2 separate regions of the Homo sapiens genome follow, and region 1 is linked to region 2. Evidence: fine-mapped expression QTL. Tissue or cell type: whole blood. Region 2 holds a variant in brackets; the other region holds the start of a gene. All regions are shown on one strand. Distances are between the middles of the regions. Region 1 holds the start of HMOX1 (heme oxygenase 1). Region 2 overlaps MCM5 (minichromosome maintenance complex component 5).

Region 1 (2,905 bases), 29 kb after region 2:
AGGTTGCAGTGAGCCGAGATCGCGCCACTGCACTCCAGCCTGGGCAACAGAGCAACACTCCATCTCAAAAAAAGAAAAGCAAAAAAGCAAAAAAACAAAAAAACAAAAAACAAAAAACAAATTCAGGCTGGGCATGGTGGCTCTCGCAGCTTTGTAAACACTCTTCAGTCATTAAAACACTAAATAATACAGTCCCCCAAACCAAGGGGGAAATCCTGGTACAGGTAGTTCGCAGTGGAGAGGAGGAGGAGGTACAGCATAACCCAGGAAGAAGCAGCAGCCCCATGAACCGGCATCTCCAAGTTTGTAATTGCTTTGATTGGCTTTTAGACCCAATATTTAATTCAGTTATTTTGTTAAAGTTCCAGATGCAAATCTCATGACCCCCTATCATGTTATGCTCATCATGAAGGCGTCAGGGTTAAAAAGCCTGAGAAAGTCTGCTTTAGTCAAAGAAAAAGTCTTTCTGGGAGTATTTCTGTCATGGGTCCGTATCCCTGCCTCCCCACAGAATTGTCATTTTTCCCTTTTCTCCTGCCCTGCTTCCCTGTTCTACAACACAGCTGGTCAAAGTCTCAGGAGAAATGGCACATGTCTGTAAGTCCCAGCTACTCTGGAGGCTGAGGTGGGAGGATGCTTAAGCCCAGGAGTTAAAAAAAAAAATACTAACAAATTATTGAAAGAAGGGAATGAGTGAGACCTGGAGGTGGGCAGACCAAGGTTCAAGGCCCAGTTCTGACACCAGCTAACTGAGCACTCTTGGGCATGTCGCCTCCCTGAACTGGGCTATCTGTGAGACATGGAACACCGCAGCCAGGGTGATGTCTGGCTCAGGTCCTCCGTAGCTAGTGAGGGACAGATGCCACCAAGAGAACCAAGCATGCTCCCCCAGGCTGGCAGAGCCCCAGAGATCTAGATTCAGCAGAGAGCAACTCCAAACACACCTCGAAAGTAGGATTAAAAAAAAAATTGGCTACCTCAAAGACTGGATACTCTAGGGACACTCCCATCTTGGTCACCAACCGCATACCAGGGTGCCAGGCATGTAAATTACCGTTCCTCCCTCCAACTACCCTACGGGCACAGGCAGGATCAGAACCCCGCACCTCCTGACTCCAGAGCCCAAGTTTCTGGCTCCTGGGCTCTGTCGCTGTGTGGCAGTGTCCCGGGGTGGGGCTAGGACGCAAGCAGGGTTGGGAGAGAAAGGCGCCCGTCCCGCGTCCCGCGCCCCGCGCTTGCCTGTCGGGTTGCGGACGCTCCATCCGGCCGGTGCTGGGCTCGTTCGTGCTGGCTCCGCGGGCGGCGGCTGCGCTGAGGACGCTCGAGAGGAGGCAGGCGTTGACTGCCGGAGCCGCGGCCGGTCACATTTATGCTCGGCGGGTCACGTGGGCCAGGCGGAACAGCTGATGCCCACTTTCTGGCCGGGCGTTGCAACACCCGCAGGGGCCCGCGCCCAGCCCGCCCCGGGCCAGTGTGGGGTGGAGAGGAGCAGTCATATGACCCTTGGGAAACAAAGTCTGGCCATAGGACTTTTAGAGAAAACACACACACACACACACACACACACACATACACACACACACACACACACACACACACACAAAACCTTTAAGGAAATCTGAGAAGCTGCAGGCTCTGGGTGTGATTTTGCTCCTTCCAGAGCCCCCCCTTCTGCTCCCTGTCCCCTTGGGACTTGATGCACCCCAGGCGTCCCAGAAGGTTCCAGAAAGCTGGGAGGCAGCGCTGCTCAGAGCAATAGCCTGGTGGGCAACATCAGGAACTTAGCAACCCCAGGCTCTGCTGTCTCCAGCTCCCTAAAATGTCACCTGCTGGAATCCTCTGCTGACTGCTTGCCTCCTCACACCCTCTTTAAATGTACATTTAGGATCTGTTTTTTGAGTTCCTGTCAAAAAACAGAGACTCTAGTATTTTCATGGTTCATCCCTACAACTGACCTGTGAGGGTAGATCGCTTCTATTTTACAGATGGGGAAACCGAGGCTCAGAGGGGTGCAGTGGTGTCACACATAAAGCAGGATGCCAGTGTCCAAACCCAGGGAGGAGACTAAGTCCCCGCCTGCCTCCTCCACACTCTGGCAGCACCTGGTATCCGCCTGGACTGGGACACCTGTCATACAAACTGCTTCCCTGCTGGAATGCGTGGGACACTCTTCCAGGCACATTCAGGTCTGACTTATACTCAGTGCCTGCTCAGGGCCCAGAGCAGAGCTGGCCCTTGCTGATCGCCTATTGAATCAATTCTGCATGAGGTGGACTCCTTAGAACTCGGGGGAAATAGGGTCACTGGGTGAACCCAGAGGACAAAACGAATGGACCAGATGATTCATACAGTCCTTTCCCAATACTGTGATTCTCATTCTAAGATTTTTTTTTTAAGATGGCTTTCAGGCCTGGCATGGTAGCTCACACCTGTAGTCCCAGTACTTTGGGAGGTTGAGGTGGGAAGAGCGCTTTGAGCCCAGTCGAGGTGGGAAGATTGCTTTGAGTTCGAGACTGGCCTGGGCAACATAGGGAGACCCTGTCTCTACAAAATATAAAATAAATTAGCTGGGCATGGTGGCACATGCCTGTGGTCCCAGCTACTTGGGAGGCTGAGGCTGGAGGTTCACTTGAGCCTGGGATGTAGAGGCTGGAGTGAGCTGTGACCACGCTACTGTATTCTAACCTGGGCAACAGAACAAGACGCTGTCCCTCAAAAAAAAAAAAAAACAAAAAAAAAAAAAAAAAACTTCCTGGAATTCAGCCTAGGGCCACTACAGCCCAGAGGCACTTCTGAGATTGTATTGGAAAGGATCATCCTCCCAAGGGTGAGCTAAGGGGCCTTGAAAAAAATTCCCCTTCTTCCTCTGAAGGTTCCCCGAAAACCAACCGACAAAAGTCAGGTT
Region 2 (2,905 bases):
TCCAGCCACTCAGTACCTTGCCCAGGCCGGGGTTTTCACCTGCTCCTGCCATCCCCTCCCGCCTGGAAGTTCTTCCACATCCACCACTCTTCAAAGCCCAGCTCAGATTAACCTCCTCCCAGAAAACCTTCCCCAAGGCCCAGCCCCGACCTCCTCCTTCTCAGACCTCCTTTAGCACCTCCTTGGAACTGCGTGACCCACAACAGCCACCACTTTACCCACATGTCCCCAGCGGTCTCACAGTTTTCTTATTTCTCCAACTAGACACTAGGCGGCTGCCTGCCTGGAACCCTGCGTTTCACTTCTCTTGTATTTCCTGTCACAGAAGTGAAGACTTGGCTTTCAGTAATTCCCCAGTGATTTGACCTCAGTCCTTCTGCCTTAATCCTGCACTTAGGCAAACACCCTCAGCCCAGGAGCCACAGCTAGGACCAATGTGTGGAAGTTCCAGGGATCACTTAATATAAAAATGAACGTTCTAATGATATGAGCAACACAAGGACATCCTGGGCTACCTCATGAAGTAACGAGCTGCCTGTTACCAGAAGTATGCAAGCACAGCCTTTTAGCAGGGCTAAGCCAGGACCCCAAAGCCAACTCACCAGAGCCATCTGTGTCCACCTGGATGCCCAGGACACGGATGTAGGAGCTTCGGATGCCCACGCCCACCCTGTCACGGCCCCTGCTGGTAGTCAGGCCAAACTTCTTGATGGAGTAGATGCCCATGATGGTAACCCTGTTCCCAGGGACGACCTTGTCACACAGGTACCTGAGAGGAGGGTAGAGGAGAAAGGAGAAAAGCTGAGATTCTGACTTGGACAGCAAGTCTCTGATTCCACCCATGCCCAGGACACGCAGGGTCCACTGCAGCATTTTTGCCACAGGCACCACATGCTGAGCTGGCTCCAGCCCCACGGAGCCCAGAGAACGGCCTCTCTCCCCACGTCACTCAGCCCATGCTCAGCTGCTTGGAGGATGGTGTTGCCCACAGTGACAGCCAAACAGAAAGGCAGGTGGTGGCCTGACTCTCGCTGAACTCGCTAACTCATTTGTACGCTGGTTTAGGAGGCTTAGTGCCAGCCCACAGAGCCCTCCAAAAGCCCCATCTCCACGTGTCTGCTGTCAGCTCACTGTGTGGTGCCCTTTAGCCTCTCAGGGCAAGACTTCCTCTTCACGCCCCCCAGCCTCCTTGAGGGGCCACTCGCCCTTTTTGCCTCTTCATGGCTCTGTGAGCTCATTTTGCCTCTGGGTTTTCATTTCCTGTTTT[C/A]AAAATGAGATGTTGAAACAGGGAAGTCTCCAAGTCCCCCAGTCAGAGACAGGGTGGTGTGGAGGGACACTTAGTCGCTGTGTGACCTCAACGAAGTCATTGCACCTCTGAGCCTAGGGGGATGACGAAGTGGCCTGCCTCTCATGTTGTGGAGTCAGGTGAGGCAGCAGACATAGAAGTGCTTTATACCATCAGGCATCACAGCTCCAGAAAAGACCATCACCGTCACTCCATGAGCCTCCAACTCCCCTCTTCCCATACCCACTTCGTAAGTTTTCAGGATTCATGAACTGCTTGGAAAATCATACATCCTGATTACGTAATCTGCATGAAGGAATTGTGCTAAACACCACATGCATTTTCAAGCAGCCCTCTGAGAGATTAAGGACTGTCCTTATCCCCATTTTACTGATGAGGAAACTGAAGCTTGACAAAGTCACATAACTTGCCCAGGGAGCAAGAGCCTGACCCCTACATACTCTGTTGCCACTAATGAAGTTAACAGAAGCTACAGATCCGCTCTCCTCAGAACATCTGCATGCAATTTCAGGATATGCAAGCCCAGGTTAGAACCCTAATCAAAGATCTCAAAACCTTCCACCCAGGTTACTATGAGGGGCCCAAGCTCAGTACCCTCTCCCCCTCAGTAGAATCTTTTTTGTTTTCCTTTTTGAGACAGGGTCTCGCTCTGTCACCCAGGCTAGAGTGGAGTGGTGTAATCACAGCTCACTGCAACCTCAACCTTCTGGGGTCAAGTGATTCTCCCACCTCAGCCTCCCAAGTAGCTGGGATTATAGGTGTCTGCCCCAACACCCAGCTAATAAATTTTTTTTTTTTAGATACAGGGTCTCAGTATGTTGCCCAGGCTGGTCTTGAACTCCTGGCCTCAAGCAATCCTCCTGTCTCAGCCGCTCCAAGTGCTGGGATTACAGGCATGAGCCACCGTGGCTGTTCAGCAGGATCTTAACAGAAAGCCTGGGGTACGCTGGGCGCAGTAGCTCACGCCTGTAATCCACGCACTCTGGGAGGCCAAGGCGGGCGGATCATGAGGTCAGGAGATCGAGACCATCCTGGCTAACAAGGTGAAACCTCATCTCTACTAAAAAATACAAAAAATTAGCTGGGCATGGTGGAGGGCGCCTGTAGTCCCAGCTACTCGGGAGGCTGAGGCCGGAGAATGGCATTAACCCAGGAGGTGGAGCTTGCAGTGAGCCGAGATCGCGCCACTGCACTCCAGCCTGGGCTACAGAGCCAGACTCCGTCTCAAAAAAAAAAAGAAAGCCTGGGGTAGGAGGTGGGGTGTCAGGCTGGGAAGAGGCTTTGCCAGCTATTGGTTATCTAGCTGTGCATCCTGGGCCTCTTATCCTAAGAAGAACACAGACTTTGGAAAGCAATGCACATAGGCTGAAAGCCCGGCTCTCCTCCACACAGGAAGTCATTTAATCTCTCCAAGTTACATTTCCTCATCTGCAAAATGGGGCTGACATGCCCCTGCAGATTATGGAAAGACGAGATGAGAGGAACTTATGGAAGCATTAGGCACAGAGCAGGTGCTCTGCAACTGGCCACCTTCTCCACCCTACTCACCCTGCTCCAGATGACCCACTCCCAACACTCGGGTTAGGGCCACAGCTGGGA

The links.
Region 1: HMOX1 starts here. The variant in region 2 is fine-mapped to the expression of HMOX1 in whole blood (TOPMed, PIP above 0.99).

The regions. Positions count from the first base shown.
Region 1 is chr22:35,379,531-35,382,435 of GRCh38, reverse strand. HMOX1 (heme oxygenase 1) reads right to left here and starts at 1,340. Exons shown (of 5, transcript NM_002133.3): 1 at 1,240-1,340. The coding sequence starts at 1,262. RefSeq lists silencers at 1,070-1,239, 1,540-1,619.
Region 2 is chr22:35,408,608-35,411,512 of GRCh38, reverse strand. MCM5 (minichromosome maintenance complex component 5) reads right to left here. Exons shown (of 17, transcript NM_006739.4): 7 at 603-769. Among named protein-coding and RNA genes, the nearest start is that of MCM5, 9.9 kb to the right of the region's middle. RefSeq lists enhancers at 865-1,004, 1,085-1,304, 1,395-1,454. The variant C/A (reference allele first, on the strand shown) is at 1,268.